Regions from separate parts of the Homo sapiens genome. Here region 2 is linked to region 1. The links come from fine-mapping of genetic effects on gene expression. A gene starts in region 1. The other region holds a variant in brackets. All regions are shown on one strand. Distances are from middle to middle. Region 1 holds the start of NFAM1 (NFAT activating protein with ITAM motif 1). Region 2 overlaps NFAM1 (NFAT activating protein with ITAM motif 1).

Region 1 (8,319 bases):
TAAAAATACAAAATTAGCCGGGCGTGGTGGCACATGCCTGTAATCCCAGCTACTCGGGAGGCTGAGGCAGGAGAATCACTTGAACCCGGGAGGCAGAGTTTACGGTGAGCCGAGATCGCGCCATTGCACTCCAGCCTGGGCAACAAGAGAAAAATTCTGTCTCAAAAAAAAAAAAAAAAGAAAGAAAAGAAAAAGAAAACAGAGGCCAGTAATTGTGGTCTCATTTGGAAAGCCTTAGTCTTGGTGTCGAGGAGGCCCCTGGGGACTGCAGGGGACACCTGGGCTCCCCCATTTCCCCACCCAGCTTCCACCTCCTTCAGGGCTGCCACTCAGAAATTACTTTAACCTCCCTGTTCCTCAGTTTCCTCATCTGTACAATGGAGGTGATTAGAGTGCCTGCCCCATAGGGCTGCAGTGAGGATTAAACTGGCAAGGAGAGCAGGTCCCCTGGAGCAGTGTCAGGCGCTTGGAAGCTTCCCGGAACTGCTCTATTATTGCTTCACTCTGCTGAGGTTGCCGTGCCCCTAGGCTTCCCAGGGAGGCTAGGCTCTTTCACTTCTACAGCCTCCGTGAGGCCAGGGCCCAGGGCAGGGCAGGTGTTCAGTATACTGTGAGGCATAGATGCACGGATAAACGGGGAATGGACGGAGGTCTGGGCAAAAGCCAGTGGCTGAGACGTGTGGTCCCCAGGGACCTCACCTGCAAATTCAGCTGCCAAGGCCTAGCTCGAAGGCTGTGCCACTGAAGCTGCCCCTGGGACACCCACAGAGCCTCCTCATTCCTCTGCTCCGCCTTCAGCCTTTGGGGCCTTTACTGTTTATTCACAGCTCTGGCTGAGGGCACAGGAGAGGAAGCACATGAGAGGTGCTAGAAAGTTTTGGTAGAAATGAGGCTCCTGGATGCGCTGCGGTTTTATTTCTATCCCCCTGGCTCCCGAGGAGGATCAGGGCCAGACACGAGGCCCCGACAGCGCAGCCAGGGCTGCTGGGCTCCTTGCCAAGGTGCGTCCCTGCCTCTCCCCAGGAGGCTGCGTGGCTGCAGAGCGTCTCAGAAACTGGGCAATGAGCTGGGACCCTCAGCTGCTTCTTGTCCAGTCATGTCTGCGCTCCACAGCCCAGGGCCTGCCTGGGGAGTATGCACGCCTCCTCCCACCCTGCCTCCCAGAGGCTACCCCTTCCCTTGAGGCCTCTTGTGCACCAGCGTGGTGTTGGGCACCTGCCTTCATATCAAGCCTGGAGGAAGGCTTCTCCCTGCCTTATGCTCACCCATCCGTCCATTCCTGCACCCCCTGGGCCAGGCTCAAGAAGGAGAGGGGAGGAAGACAGGCAGCTCAGGCAGGCAAGCGTGGAAACCAGGTGTGCAGCAGGCTAGACCCAGACTCAGAGGCGGCAGAACTCCCGGGAGTCCGAGGTACAGAGTTGGGGTGTGGGGGGCACCGTGACAGGCTGAGAGGTAGGGTCAGTGAGCTGGCACAGGGGCAGGAGCGGAGGCGGCACCAGGGCTGGAAGAGCAGGCTCCCTTGTTCCGAGGCAGTTTGGCATTCAGCTGCCTCCCAGTGCCAAGTCGTAATGAGACTTGTAGAGGCACAGACCGATGCTTTTCCAATGCTCCCCGTGTACCCTGAGGCATTGACACGAGGTCTATCACCATGGCATCAAGGTGCTTAGACAACCTGCTACTCCCAGGAGCCAGGAATAGCGTGAAGCAGCGGGTCTGCATCTCACTGTGACATATGTGAGCATGTATCACTGTGATGGATCAACAGTCAATAACACTGGGGTCCCCGCCTGCCCCCTGCGCGGTAGGAAACTTCTCCTGTTCATATGTCTTCCTCCCCTGGTGGGCGGCCCCTGCTCTTGCCAGCCTCCCAGTGCTCGTGGCATTGGTGGAAACGTCTTTAGGCTTTCACTGTTCATGTTTGGAGCAGCCCAGGGAAAAGCATGTGTGCAAAGAACTGAAATGGATCTCATGATGCCGTCACCGGGGGCTGCAGCTGGACACACCTGAGCAGGCAGTAGCAGGGTGGGAGAAGGCTCGGACATCATACCACTGGCAGTTCAAATGCCCGCCCCACAGACCTGCCCTGATCCTAGGCATGTTGTTTTGCCTCCTGGGGCCGAGGTCTTCTCTTTTGTACAACTGGGATCATCACATTTATCTGGTGAGTGAAGGGACACCTGCAGAGAAGGGAGGTAAGCGCTCAGCATGCGCTGAAACTCAGCCACCTTCCCGCCTGCGTCTTCCATGTACCAGGTGCCTCCAGCTCCACCAGCCATCACCACACCCCAGCCCCTTTCCTCTGCCACTCCAGACACGCAGGCAGATGTGTGGGTGCCAAGGGTGAGGGGCTCCCAGTCTGCTGGGGAAGGGGGTCCCGGCAGCAAACAATTCCTGTCCCCGGCTGATGCTGCTAGAAGTGAGAGCAGGGGCTGTGACCTGCAGCCAATGGGGAAGCAGTTCGAGGGTCTCACAGTTGGGAGGCCGAGTGAGCTAAGCTTTAGGGCAGCCACAGGGAGGAGCTGACGTTAGAGATGGACCAGAGAGGAGGCGTCTCCTGGGCCTCTGCAGGGGACCCACAGAGGTTCTCGCTGGGTGAATGATGGGCAGCCTGCCTTTCACCTGCCCTGGGTGTTTGGCCCTCTCTAGGGCTGGGAACATGAGGCTCCTGCCCTTCACCCCAGCCTCCCTACCACCCCTCACCAAAAAACCTACCTTTGGTAAACACATTATTAAGGGATTCTCAGAATATTTTAGAGAAGTTTGTGTGAACATGCTTGTGGTCGTTTTAAAAGTGTTTCAGAAGTGAGAGGCTAAACCAAGGCCCGAAGTCACTCATGGAAATCCCATGATCCCTCTGCACAGTTACCAGTGTCTCCTGGACGGGGCCCCTGCTGGAAAGGGGCCGAGACAGGGTGAAGCCCACCAGGGGTTGGAGTGGGGAGGCTTGGGTCCCGTCTCCAGCTCTTCTTCTGGTTGTGTGGCCTGGACCAGTCTCAGTGCCAGGTTCCTCATCTGGCGGCCACCCTGCTGGGCTGTTCCAGCTTTGCTTCTGAGCGGAAGGTCAGGGGCTGCCAGGGAGGAGCTTCGTGGGGAAAGCAAAGGGGAAGCTGTCAGCGCCGGCCGTCCCCTCCTGTGAACTAAAGAGTCGCCGCAGACAAGCAGGCCCCCAGATGGAGAACCAGCCTGTGAGGTGGCGGGCCCTGCCAGGCCTCCCACGCCCTCCTGGGCTCCCCGCAGCCCCCTGGCTCCTCCTTGGCGTGCTGCTGCTGCCCGGGACCCTGCGACTGGCAGGTAGTGTCTGTCTTCCTCCTTCTCTCTACTCTCTCGCTCCAGAACATCAGAGCGGCTTTCATCCCGCCCGGCGCAGCTAATTCCCAGGGACCTGTCTCTGGGGATTTGCTGGTTGTCGTTTGAACGCTGCAGACTTCACAGGGGAAGCCTTCTGGGACCGAGAAGATGTTTAGCTAATGCCTTGCCAAGGTGGCTTTTGAAGGGGAGGGGGACAGCGCTCTCTCCCTCGCTGCTGTGACAGCTTTGCCCCAGCAGTCTGGCCTCCTGGCCCTTAAACAAGGAGGGTGGGCGCTGTGTGGCTGGGGCCAGGGGCGGGGCAGGGGGGAGGGACAGCTCCCCATCCGAGGAACCTCACGTGGCTGCTGCGGGGGACACTGCGTTGAACCTGGCAAGTGGTGGGGCTACCCTCTGGGTTGTTGCTGGCATTGGCCAGGGAGAGCGGGGAGAGGGGGGAGGGGGGGATACCAGGGCCAGCCACAGGGCTCTGCGCCCAGAGGCACAAAACTGTCAGTCACCAGAAAGGGTCTCACCTCCCAGTTCCTGAAACACAACCAGAGGCCAAGTGTTTTAGGATGCAAGTGTGTCTTTCCACGCCAGCGGCGCTCCTTTCCTGGTTCCAGGCTTTCTTGGAAGCTGGGTGGCCGGGATCCGAGCCAAGCTGTGGGGTAGGTAGCCTCAGGGCCAGTTCATCAGGCCAGGGACGGCCCAGGAGGGTCCCATTCCAGGGCTGCCAGCACGAGGGCTCAGTGAATTCTGCCAGATTCTCTCTGCCCCTCCTTGGCCGGGCAGCAGCCAACCCTCCCTCTGGCCAAAGGGGTGGCCTCCACTGTGGAGACAGGGTGCCTTCCTTTCTATTCTCTTAGTTTATGGGGCTTTCAAGAGCTGCCCCCACCCTGTCCTGCTGCACCCCCTCTCATGACCACAAATTAGGCTTTATGGAGCCCTTAGCAGGGCACGTACTGGCCACCCTCACAGCACCCCTTGGGGCTCCTATTGTCCTCACCTGCACCATTTTAAGGACAGGGAAAAGGAGGCCCAGGGAAGCCAGTTCGTTTGCTCAAGACCTAGCCGGTAAGTAGAGGCCAGCCTCAGCCCCAGGCCAGCCTCAGCCCCAAGCTGGGCCCCTCGGCCAGTAGGCTCAGAGGATCCTCTTACTTGTAAAGAATGTTCTTCACCGGAAACTTACCCTGGGGAGGCAAAGGCTGACCTGTGTGTACCTCCCCAGGCTGCAGCCCAGAGCCCTAGGACACCATCTCCTTTAATCCTGTGCACGCCTCGCCCCACACCCCAGACAGTTGGTGCAAACACGGCCAGACCCCGGAAATGCAGCCTGTTAGTGTCAATGTGTCTCAACTACAGTCATTTTTAATTTAATTTCCCCCCAATTCCCATCCTTTCCCTTTGTGTGGTTCCTCCTCCCCAAAAGACACCCAGCACACCCTGGTAACCGAGCAGTAAGAGGTTTTATGGGGTGCTACTGGGGAAAAGCTCTTTTGTAACAGTCTCAACTATAACAAAACATTCCCAGTGCCACCCCCTCCCACCCGGTATTGCAACAAACATTACATAAAAGAGAAACTGTTCTTTCACAAGAGGTGAAAACACCCTTACGGTGTCCTAGAGTCCCTTGGAGCAGCAGACAAACCCCCACCCATGATTTTTTTTTTTTTTTTTTTTTTTGAGAGTTTCACTCTTGTCACTCAGGCTGAAGTGCAATGGCGCCATCTTGGTTCACGGCAACCTCTGCCTCCTGGGTTCAAGTGATTCTCCTGCCTCAGCCTCACGAGTAGCTGGCACTACAGGTGCCCACCACCATGCCCAGCTAATTTTTGTATTTTTAGTAGAGACAGAGTTTTGCCATGTTGGCCAGGCTGGTCTTGAACTCCTGACCGCAGGTGATCTGCCCGCCTCAGCCTCCCAAAGTGCTGGGATTACAGGCGTGAGCCACTGTGCCCGTCCTGTTTTTATTTTTTTGAGACAGGGTCTCGCTCCGTCCACCAGGCTGGAGTGCAGTGGTGCAATCTCAGCTCACTACAACCTCTGCCTCCCTCACTCAAATGATCCTCCCACCTCAGCCTCCCGAATAACTGGAACCACAGCGTGTGCCACCACACCCAGCTATTTTTTAAATTTTTTCGTAGAGATAGAGACTCACAGTGTTGCCCAGGCTGGTCTCGAACTCCTGACCTCAGGTGATCCACCCGCCTTGGCCTCCCAAAGTGCTGGGATTACAGGCGTGAGCCACTGTGCCCAACCCCCAACCCGCTCTTTGTCCTACCCCTGTGCATCCCCCTTCATCTATCTGTCACTCCATGTCACACCCCTGCCTTCTCGTCTCAGAGCTTTGAGGGTTTGCTGGAAGGAATCTTGCCCCTCCCACATCTTCCAAACCTCCCCTGACCGTAACCATCAGCCTTAACCATCAGCCTGGTGCAACCAGCTCTGCCACCTGTCAGTACCAACCCAGCTTGCATCCCTCAGCTGTGTCCACAGGGGTGTCACTGAAGGCCAGCGTCCCTGATTCTGCATCGTATCCCTGAACTTGCGAGAGGATGCTGGCTTAGGAGTACAGGCCAGGGGCATTCATCTTCAGTTTGATTTTTTATTTATTTATTTATTTTGAGACGGAGTCTCGCTCTGTTGCCCAGGCTGGAGTGCAGTGGCACCATCTCGGCTTACTGCAACCTCCGCCTCCCAGGTTCAAGCGATTCTCCTGCCTCAGCCTCCTGAGTAGCTGGGATTGCAGGCACCCACCACCATGCCTGGCTAATTTCTGTATTTTTAGTAGAGTCAGGTTTTCACCGTGTTGGCCAGGCTGGTCTCGAACTCCTGACCTCAGGTGATCCCCCCACCTTGGCCTCCCAAAGTGCTGGGATTACAGGCGTGAGCCACCGCACCCGGCCCAGTTTGAATTTGAGCTCTGCTACTTGCCCAGGCACCCTGGGCAGATTACTTCTATCGCTATGCCTCAATTGTCTCCTCTGTTAAATGGATGTGATAACACTGCCTGCCTAAACACATCCTGAGGACTGAGTGCCCAGTATGTCATTAGTCCTCAGTGAGTGTCAGCCACCTGCCAGCCTCGCCAGAGCCATGGAAACTTGAGGTGCAGTTGGTGAGCCCACGGCCTCCAGCTCATCCTGGGTACCTGCTCCTGCTCCCAGCCATCCTCCTCCTCCCACTTGAGCCGGGACTTGGGCCTGTCCTCTGGCTTCTTGACCCCTCTGCAAAGCCTGCTTTTCTCAAAGGCAGCCACTGGTGGTCTCCCCAAGACAGGAATTGCTGGGGGCTTGGCTTTTCCAGGAGCAGCTGCAACTCAGCTTCCATGGGCCTCAGTCCTCCCCAAGGACTTTGGGGCTGGACAGACCTGAGTTCCAGGCCTGCCTTCTTCTGGTGACAGCTGTGTGACCTCAGGCAATTACTTAACCTCTCTGCACCTTAGTGTCCTCTGCAAATGTCAGTCCCCTCTCTGTGGCCTTTCCAGAACTCTGGGCTGTATTTATTTCTCACATATCCATTGAAAAGGACCGGTTCTAGGCACCAGAGGGACCCAGACGTGAACAAGCCATAGGCCCCACTCTCAGCCTGGTGGGACCGTGAGCCTTGGCCGGAGTTACCAGACAAGTTTGTTCTGGATCCAGGTGGTGTGCGCCTGTAATCCCAGCTACTCAGGAGGCTGAGGCAGGAGAATTGCTTGAACCTGGGAGGCAGAGGCTGCACTGAGCTGAGATCGTGCCACTGAACTCCAGCCTGGGTGACAGAGCAGGACTCTGTCTCAAAAAAGTAATAATAATAAAAAAAGATGTTCAGGAGCCCCTGCCTGCTCCCGGCTGAGACCTCCTGCCTCCCTTCCCGCCGCTCCGGACCTCTGTCAGGAGTAGCCTCTGTTTTTCATCTTTGTCTAAATCCCAATAAAGGACTTTCGAGGCACAGGCAGAGGTGGGCGGGGAGAGGCAGGGGAGTGCTGGAAAGGCTGCCCGCGGAGTGGGGACAGAGCGGGAGGTGGCTGAGGGAATGAGGGCTGAGAGCCCAAAAGGCAGGGCCAGGAGGGCCGGGAGAGGCTCAGCTTGACGGCAGGGGAAGTCTGACACAGGAGTGGGATGCAGATTGTGGTTGGGTGGATCACAAATGCCCCTCAGGTAGGGGTCCGGGCACACTCCCAGCGGGTCCTGTCTCACTGCTGTCTCCTCTGTCATGGTGAACTATCGCACAAAAACCGCAGTGCTGCGTGGTAAGCACTAGAAAACAAAGTCCTGTGTGACTCTCACCAGGTCAAGAATGAGAACATCCCAGTGCCTCAGAGCCCCTTCTACTCCCCTCGCCCCACAGACACTGCCCCGCTCCGTGCCCCACCAAAGGTACCCCCATCCCAGCTTGTGGGGGGATCACTTACTGGCATTTCTTTGTAGTTTTATCATTAGTACACATCCCGAAACCATATGGACTAGCTTTGCCTGTTTGTGAACTTTGTGTAATTGAAGGATACTGTGTGTATTCTCCGGTGACCCGCTTCTTTCACTGAGCATTATGTTTTTTAAGATAGATCCAGTCCACGATATGGCTGAAGTTCGTTTTGTTGCTATAGATAGAGCAAGAGTTGAAACCACGGCCGGTGGGCTAAACCCAGCCCACTGCCTCTTGTATGGCTTGTGAGTTATGAATGGTTTTTATATTTTTAAGTGGTTGAAAAAATCAAAAGGTACTGTGCGGACTCATGTGGCTTCTAATCCTTGACTCCCAGCACGGGACCAGCACCCAGCAGATGCTCAGGAAATGGTGACAATCAAGGATGAATTAAGCTCTGAGCAGGGTGGAGACGCGATGCCACAGGAGGGGCGCCTGGGGGAGGAGATGGAAGGGCTGGGTAGTCGTCCTCTGCCCTTCCTCTGCCCTCCCTGAGCCCTGGCTCCTCTCCAGCGTTGGTAGGGTAATGAGACCCCCTGTGTAGTGAATGGGAGGGAGGACACAGGCATCCTGGGGAAATGTGGACCCGGAGGCAGGATCTGACCCTCTGCTTGCTCCTTGTGG
Region 2 (8,319 bases), 49 kb after region 1:
GAGTAGCTGGGATTACAGGCGCCCGCCCCTGTGCCCAGCTAATTTTTTGTGTTTTTAGTACAGACAGGTTTTCACCATGTTGGCCAGGCTGGTCTCGAACTCCTGACCTCATGATTCACCCACCTCAGCCTCCCAAAGTGCTGGGATTAAAGGTGTGAGGCACCGCGCCCGGCCCATACTTTCTCTCTTAAACCTGTTTGCTCATCTGTAAAGTGGATGAGCAGTGTTTTCCTGCAATACCAACTGCCTCTGAATTCAAATGTGTTCCAAGCTGAATAACATCTGCACCAGAGCTTCCAGCACCGTCAAGCGTGAGGCGTTGTTCAGCCAGAACAGGAGCCCACAGGCCTCTTGGAACATCTGTCAGGGAGTGCGGGCGCCTGGCACTTGGCCTTCTCTGGCTCGGGCTGGCACTATTTGTTAAATCGCCTGTTCTCAAAGCCCTTTCTATACTCAGCCCTCAACTAGACCCTGAGTGAAAGCAGGGACATCTCCGGCAGTGCCCACCCTGTGCCAGGCCCTGGGGTGCTGGACAGGAGAACTAGGCATGTCCCTACCCTCTGGGAGCCATAGTCTGCAGGAATAGGTCGCTGACCCCATGGACACACAGAGGCATTTGTAGCCCTGTTGTGAGGGGTGTTCTTCTGGGAGGGACCAGCCAGGGTGGGGAGGGAGGGAGGGGGTCCCTGGGACCCTATGATGAGCCCGCAGGCAGAGTGAGTAGGGGGCAGTCATGGAACAGGTGTGTCTGTGGGAGGAGGCGCATCCCACACATAGGGCAGAAGGCAGAGGGCAGAGCTGTGGGGGAAGCTCTGAGGCTGGAAGGGCAGGCCCATGTGGCTGGAGGGCAATGGGCAGGGGTGGGGGCAGCATGGTGGGGGAAGAGGCTGGGGAGGTGGGCTTGGAGACAGAGGGCAGGCCCCCCATCAAAGCTACACAGGAAGTGATCTGTTGCCCTCTGGCTAAAACTAAATTAGTGCAAGTTCATTCTTAATGGTCATTCTCTCTCTTTCTCTCCTTCCCTCCCTTTCTTCTTTTCTATCCAGGAGAGACCGCATAGATTCGAAGATGATGGCGAACTTAACCTGGTCTATGAAAATCTCTAGGATGGGCTCCACCGCTCATAGAGCTTGCCCTGGGTCAGAGGACCGGGGCAGCCCCTGCCACCAAAGGACTTGATCTGAGTTGGGAGTAAGGCCCCCAGGGACACCCCATCATTTCACCCTCACATTCAAGGCCCTTCCTGTCTTGGCCGGCCCCACTGCCCCCCCATTCTATGCCCCAACCACCAAGGCTTTCCCATCTTGGGGCCTTTGCCCAGGCTGTTCCTTCTGCCAGGCAGGCCCTTCCTCCCTTGGCCCAACCAGCAAAGCGCCCCTCAGTCTTCAAGGGCTTTCCTGGATGCCACCCTTGCCCAGAGCCCTGCTCACTGCCTCATGCTGACAGAGCAGCATGCTCTCTTGGCACCAGCCTGCACCTCAGCCAGTAGGGCAGCCTCTGAGCTGAGGGAGGACCCTGCAGGGGCGCCTAGCAGTGCTGTGTGGGGAGCCGAGGTATGGAGGAGCTGGGGAGCAGCTATGCAAATCCCTACCTACCCAGCTGGGCCAGAGGCACGAGGCAGCCAGGCAGGGTGGGAGCAGGGGCTGGCGTGGGAGGTCTGGGGGACAGACAAGGATGATGGACCCCTCAGAGGCAAGACTAGGATCAGGGACAGATCTGGAGGCCCAGGACATGGCTGAGAGGTGGTCAGCAGGCTGGGGGCATGGAGCAGAGAGGGCTTGGGTACAAGCTGGAGAGGAAGGAGATTCTGGCATGTTGGGGTGAGGGCAGAGGGACAGATGAGGGGAGGAGGGTGCTGGCTAAACAGGAACTGAATGAATGGCCTGAAGCTCCCTCTCCCAAGGGTTCCCACTCCCATTGGCCTGGCCCTGTACGTGCACTCTGTCATCTCCTTGGTCACCCTCTGCTCCAGGCCTTCTCCACCACAGGACCTCAGCTGTCCCTCCTTCTACCCAAGGTGGAGTCCCCCAAAGTCCCTTCTGTCTGGCCTATCCTGTGCCCACCACCTGTGGCTTCATCCAGCCCTCCTCCTCTATCTTTATCTGCCATAGGCCGCAGCCCTGGCCCCCTGTGGATTGAGGTCCCAAGTGGTCCAGCTGTGGGGTTTGGTGCTGGGACCCTCAATGGCAGCCGGAAGGTCCCTCTGAGGCAGAAGCTCAAGCCCCATGGGGACAGTGGCTCCCCAGTGCCTGGCCCTGAGCCATTTCTGCTGTTTCAGGTGCCCACATCACCCTCATTTCCTCCTCGCAGTAGCCCTGCACCGTGGCCAGAAACCCATCCACAGGCAGGCAGTGGCTGGGGTCCGGGTGCCCCGGGCTGTTGGGCTCTGCTTCCTCCCTCTGCTCCCCCATGTCTCCCTGAGTTCTCCCACCTTTGCTCATTTGTAAAATGGGCAGGTCAATCTTCCCACCCCACCGTGTGGGCTGCCCCAACCCCAAATGTGCCCAGGGAGGGGGGGGAACCCAAGGCACAGGCCCCGCCCCTGCCCCCAAGCAGCACTGGGCTACTGGCTCACAGAAGCACCTTTGGTTCTGCAGGTCATGCCCCTCCCTGCAGGGAAGGGAAAGCTGGTGGTAGAGGCTGGGCACAGACTGACGTCCAGAAGAAGTCCCTTGGCCCTGCTAGGGTGGCACCAGACTTCTCTGGTCCCACAGGACAGCCAGTGGCCTCCCAACTTGGTTCTGGGCCCCCGCCTGCAAGCACACATGGCAAGGAGGGCTTTAGCAGGCTCACATAACCGAGTGGCAAGGCCCCTGCTCCCAGAGGCTGGATTTGAATGAACTCCGGGCCTGTTTGGGGAGGTGAAGCTGCCAGGTGTGCACAGGGGCCTCCCAGGCTCCTGGCTCCACCAGCCAAGGAGGTGGGGGCAAGGGTCAGGGCAATGGGGGACAATGCCGCTCAGGGTGCAGTGAGCTCCCCTGGGAAAACCGAAGCCAGCAAGACCAGGAGAGGGCCACCTCACTGGGCCTGCCTCCCCCACCTCCTGGGCCTCTCTGACCTCAGCTCCTAGACCCTGGACCCTTGGCTGGGACTCAGCATTTTCCAGTCTTTTTCAGGGGTAGACAGGGGAGCCTGGGTTAAACTTTACCACTGTGCCCTGGCCCAGGCATCACCAACACGGCCTCCCTGCAGCTGCCCTGCCACCGACAGACCCCGATTAAACCCACACCTGGCCTTGGCCTCCCCTGCTCTATACCTTGCATGGTTTTTGCCTCACTTGGAATAAAATTCCAACTCCTCCCTGTGGCGTAGGAGGTTCTTGGGGGCTGACCCATCACCCCTCTGGTGGACAGAGACATTGCCAGCGTGGTGGTCGTCTGTGCTTGGTTCAGGGCAAGGCTGGGAGGCAGTGGGTGCTGAGGTCTTCAGTGAGCAAGGAGAGAGGCAGGGAGGAGGAGGAGGAGGAGGAGAGCACAGCATGAAAGGACGGGACCCTAAAGGGCTTTGGCCCAAGGGAGGGTGGGGCAAGAATGTTCTGAGACTTCTGTGGGCAGCAAAGAGGACTGAGCACCTGTTCTCCAGCCCCCAGGACTGAGAGCCTGCAGAGACAAGCTGGCACAGGGCGAGGGGTGGCAGGGAACTTCAGGGTGGGAGGTGCATGGGGCAGGCGGGAGGAGGAAGAACAGAGAGGGGACAGAGAGGGTATGAATGGGAGCTCCTGGGGTGCAGGCTTGCTTTCCACTATGAATGGGTGGAGGAGGGAAGAGAAGAAAATTGCTTTTGAGACCCACCCAGGCTGGGTGGCCTCAGGGCCTCCCTTGAATCCCTGCTCCACCTCCCACAGCCTTGTGGACTTGGGCAAGTCACTGGCCACCTGAGCCTCAGTTTGCAGTGACAGTCAAGACAGCTCAGGCCAGGCGTAGTGGCTTATGCCTGTAATCCCAGCATGTTGGGAGGCCGAGGCGGGTGGATCACTTGAGGCCAGGAGTTTGAGACCAGCCTGGCCAACGTGGTGAAACCCCGTCTCTACTAAAAATACAAAAATTAGCCTGGTGTGGTGGCACGCACCTGTAGTCCCAGCTACTCGAGAGGCTAAGGCAGGAGAATCTCTTGAACCTGGGAGACAGAGGTTGCAGTGAGCCGAAGTGGCACCACTGCACACCAGCCTGGGCTACAGAGCACGCTCTGTCCAAATAAACAAACAAACAAACACTACTCAGTGTCTCAGAAAGGACAGAAGGGGACTCCCTGGCTCAGGCAGAAGCTCAGTGGGTGTGCATTTCCTTCAAGACTCGTCCTTCAGAAGGAATAGGCTTCTGGGGCAGTACAGAGGAGTCTAAGTGAGAGGCAGGCCTCCCTGGGAGCTGGGCCCAGGCTCTCTGCAGCCATGCCTTTAAGGAGTGCCTACGGGGTAGCACGATCAGATGGACAGGCCAGGGCTGCCCAGAGCTGGGGGTGGGAGCAAGGTAAGCAGAGAGGTGAGGGAAGGAGGGTGCTGGCTTAGCAGGAGCTGAATGAATGGGCCTGGAGGGGAAAAGCTAAGGGGGATGGGGTGGCTTGAGTGGAGTAGGTGAGGCCTAGGTGAAGGGGAGCTGTGGACCTTCCAGGACGGACGGATGTGAGCAGTCCTGAGTGGGGACTGGAGTTAGGGTGGGGAAGGGAAGCCCCAGGCAGCCCCTGCAGGCCCCTGCCCCTGGGCCCTACCGCAGCAGGGCAGCCCTGTCTCTGGGTCTCAGCTGATGCTTCCCTCTGCCCACTGGCCCCTGACCTGGTGGGATTTCCCACCATCTCTCCCGGCCCAGCCTGCCCTGCCCTCCTAGGTCTTCCCAACCTCCCCTCTGCAGAAACATCTCAGCCA[C/T]GTCTGGCACCCCCAGGCATCCCTGCCTGCCTCTAGGAAGTTGACCCCTTCAATGGGTTTCAGCCTCCAACCCCACCCCCGCTTGACTCCTGCTCTGTCAGCACTTGCTTGAGAAAATCATCCTGGGAAACCAGCTTCTGGGAGCAGGGGCCTTGCCACTCGGTTCTGCGAGCCTGCTGAAGCCCTCCTTGCCACGTGTGCTTGCAGGCGGGGGCCCAGAACTAAGCTAGGAGGCCACTGGCTGTCCTGTGGGACCAGGGAAGTCTGGTGCCACCCTAGCAGAGGGCCCATGGACTTCTTCTGGAGGTCAGTCTGTGCCCAGCCTCTACCACCAGTCCAGAACTTGCAGTGGGTGCGGTAAACGGTGGCCCCTCCTCAGCAAACATTTCCAGGGGATTCTGGCAGCAGAGTTTCCATGGGAACATGTGCTGGTTCTGCGCTGAACCCGGTGTGGCTGGGGTTCCCTTCACAGCCAATATTGCAGGAACTGAGCCTGGTGGCCTCGGCCAGGGTAGGCAGTGCTCTTTGGCCACCCAGTGTCACAAACCTGAACTCAAGTTACAGGCAAAACCTGCTTTTCCTTTTTCTTTCTCTCTCTCTCTCTTTTTTTTTTTGTTAAAGCACATTCTAATGTAAAGTCCATGCTCCATTCTAAAGATGCCTCTGGGATTTCAGGGATGGATTTTTATGTAGTTCAATAGTTTTCTTGGCAGACAGCTTATGCAGGAGAGGTGGGCCGTTGGCTCAGTCCAGCCAGGCTGAGTGGCGTCACTCCATTCCTTGCAATGCCAGGGGATGTCATTTGTCCACCTGAGGGGGCTTCCCCAGTCTCCCTTCCCTGACCTGTGGTCAGAATGATGGCCTCAGCCTTGACTGAGCGCGGGTCAGGCCAGACTCTCTGAACTTGGTGTTGGCGTGTGTTTTGTGTGTGTCTGGAGGTGACATATGTGGGTGACAGAAGCATATGTTACAGTGAAACATTAAAACTACAGCAAAGTGAAACTCCTCTGATGCACCTGCCACCTCCCAGCCTCCATACCCGTCCCCTCCCCAGTAGTAACCAATCGGGTCATTTGGGAGTGTTTTCTTCGTCGCTGCTTTTATGGCATCTAGGTGTCTACCTGTGAACATGTAAAATGTGGAGCGCCGTGCGGGCTTCCGAACAGCCGCGATGCATTCATTTTGTAGGTGTTGTTTGCACTTGCTTTGTTGATGCAGCCCCACGTGGTGGGATCTGCCGGAGACAGCACACAGGAGCTGCCAGACTCCAATTACAGCAAAGGATCCTGCAGGACAGATGGATCCTAATTTAATCAGGCCCCCTATCGAAGGCCTTTTCAGTTGTTTATGATTTTTCAACCTCACATAAGGGGCTGCAGGGAACATCCTTGTACACACACACATCTGCAAAACTTTCCCTATGGGAAATGAGGAGGGATTCCTGGGACCCAGTGCATAGAAGTTCACTGTTCTAACAGTCACCACCAAATCGCCAGGCCCCGAGGTTGGACTGGTTTCTATTCCTCGGACTCTTTATCTAGAATATTTCATTTAATCCTGAAAATAGGTCTGTGATGGTGGGCAGGGGTGATCTCCCCATTTTATCGAAGCAGAAGCTACCACTCAGAACAGCTGACTGGCTCCAGGTCACACAGCCCAGGAGGAGCAACGCTGGGCTGCCTCGGCGTGTGTGCAGTCCTGCTGTCCCCAAGGGCATGTGTGCAGTCCTGCTGTCCCCAAGGCCAGGTAGGGGAGGTGATGGGGGAGGCAGAAAGAGCCATGGAGGGATGTGGTGTCCCCAGGAGTAGGGAAGCCCACAGAAGAACAGGTTTCCTTCAGAGATGGGCTGGCAGCCTCACATTCCTCTTATCCAATTTCTCAGAAGTGTGTGTGTGTGTGTGTGTGTGTGTGTGTGTGTGTGAAGTTGGGGGGGTCCTCCTGCCTCCCGGTATTCTATCTCTTTGGGGAAATGGAGGCAGATCCATAGAGCCCCAGGGGTTGGGCCTCCCCAGCAGCCCACGCCCACTGTGAGGCCTGGATCCTGGCAGCCTGTATGCTCTGATCCCAAGTCTACCCTGGAAATTCCCAGGCACAGCATGCCTGGAGGTGTGAGCCGCCTCTTAGAAGCTTTATAATCCCGGATAATGCTGCTGTAATTGGCATTGTTTTTCCATTACAATCCTTTCATTACCTGAAAACTGACTTTGCAAATGGCTATATCTGGAGTGGGTTTTATTTTACCACTTTGAGGACCTTGAGGGGCCGAGGAGTGGGGGCATTTTCTCTGTCTCTCCCTTGACTGCCCCATCCCCATCCCCCAGTGAGTTCCACAGGCCCAAGTGGGCCAGATCCTGGCCTTGGCTCAGGACATAGCCCTGTACCTTGCTGCCCGCCATGGGCTGATCCAGGGATGTCTCTTCTCCCCAGATGCCCCTTCTGTCCCCCTGCCATCAAGTCCACCCATAAGAGCCTCCCTCCAACCCCTCCTCCTCCCAGCCATTCCCAGTCCAAACAAGTCTCACCTGATCTTTCTATAATACATATCTGACCACATGATTCCTCTCTCAAAAGCCTGCCATACCTTATGGTAATGGTCAATTCATTCCAACAAGGGGGCCACCATCATTCAATGGGGAACAGTCTTTTCAACAATTGGTGCTGGGAGAGCCAAACCTCTACATGACCCCTACCTCACACCCTATACCAAAACTCACAGTGGTTTCCACTGTCCATAGGATCGGGGCTCAACCCCTTAGTCTCACATTCAGGGCTCTTACCACTCCTACCACTCCTTCACTTTTTTTTTTCTTTTCTTCTTTCTTTCTTTCTTTTTTTTTTTTTGAGATGGAGTCTCTCTGTGAGGCCCAGGCTGGAGTGCAGTGGTGTGATCTGGGCACACTGCAATCTCCACCTCCTGGGTTCAAGCAATTCTTCTGCCCCAGCCTCCCGAGTAGCTGGGACTACAGGCACGTGCCACCAGGCCCAGCTAATTTTTTTTGTATTTTTAGTGGAGATGGGGTTTCACCATATTGGCCAGGCTGGTCTCAAACTCCTGACTTCAAGAAATCCACCTACCTCGGCCTCCCAAAATGCTGGGATTACAGGTGTGAGCCACTATGCTTGGCTTTTTTTTTTTTTTTTTTTTTTTTTTTTTTTTGAGACAGGGTTTCCCTCCTATCACCCAGGCTGGAGTGCTGTGGTGCAATCTTGGCTCACTGCAACCTCTGTCTCCCAGGTTCAAGCAATTCTCCTGCCTCAGCTTCCCAAGTAGCTGGGATCACAGATGAGTGCCACCACGCCTGGCTAATTTTTTGTATTTTTAGTAGAGACAGGGTTTCACCACGTTGGCCAGGATGGTCTCAAACTCCTGACCTCAAGTGATCCGCCTGCCTCAGCCTCCCAAATTGCTGGGATTACAGGTGTGAGCCACCACACCTGGCCATCCTTCATTCTTTTAACAA

Evidence for each region.
Region 2: its variant is fine-mapped to the expression of NFAM1 in whole blood (INTERVAL, PIP 0.96).

What each region holds. Positions count from the first base shown.
Region 1 is chr22:42,427,209-42,435,527 of GRCh38, reverse strand. NFAM1 (NFAT activating protein with ITAM motif 1) reads left to right here and starts at 3,125. Exons shown (of 6, transcript NM_145912.8): 1 at 3,125-3,291. The coding sequence starts at 3,171.
Region 2 is chr22:42,377,948-42,386,266 of GRCh38, reverse strand. It overlaps NFAM1 (NFAT activating protein with ITAM motif 1), which reads left to right. Exons shown (of 6, transcript NM_145912.8): 6 at 1,047-5,860. The coding sequence ends at 1,106. Among named protein-coding and RNA genes, the nearest start is that of LINC01315, 13 kb to the right of the region's middle. The variant C/T (reference allele first, on the strand shown) is at 4,859.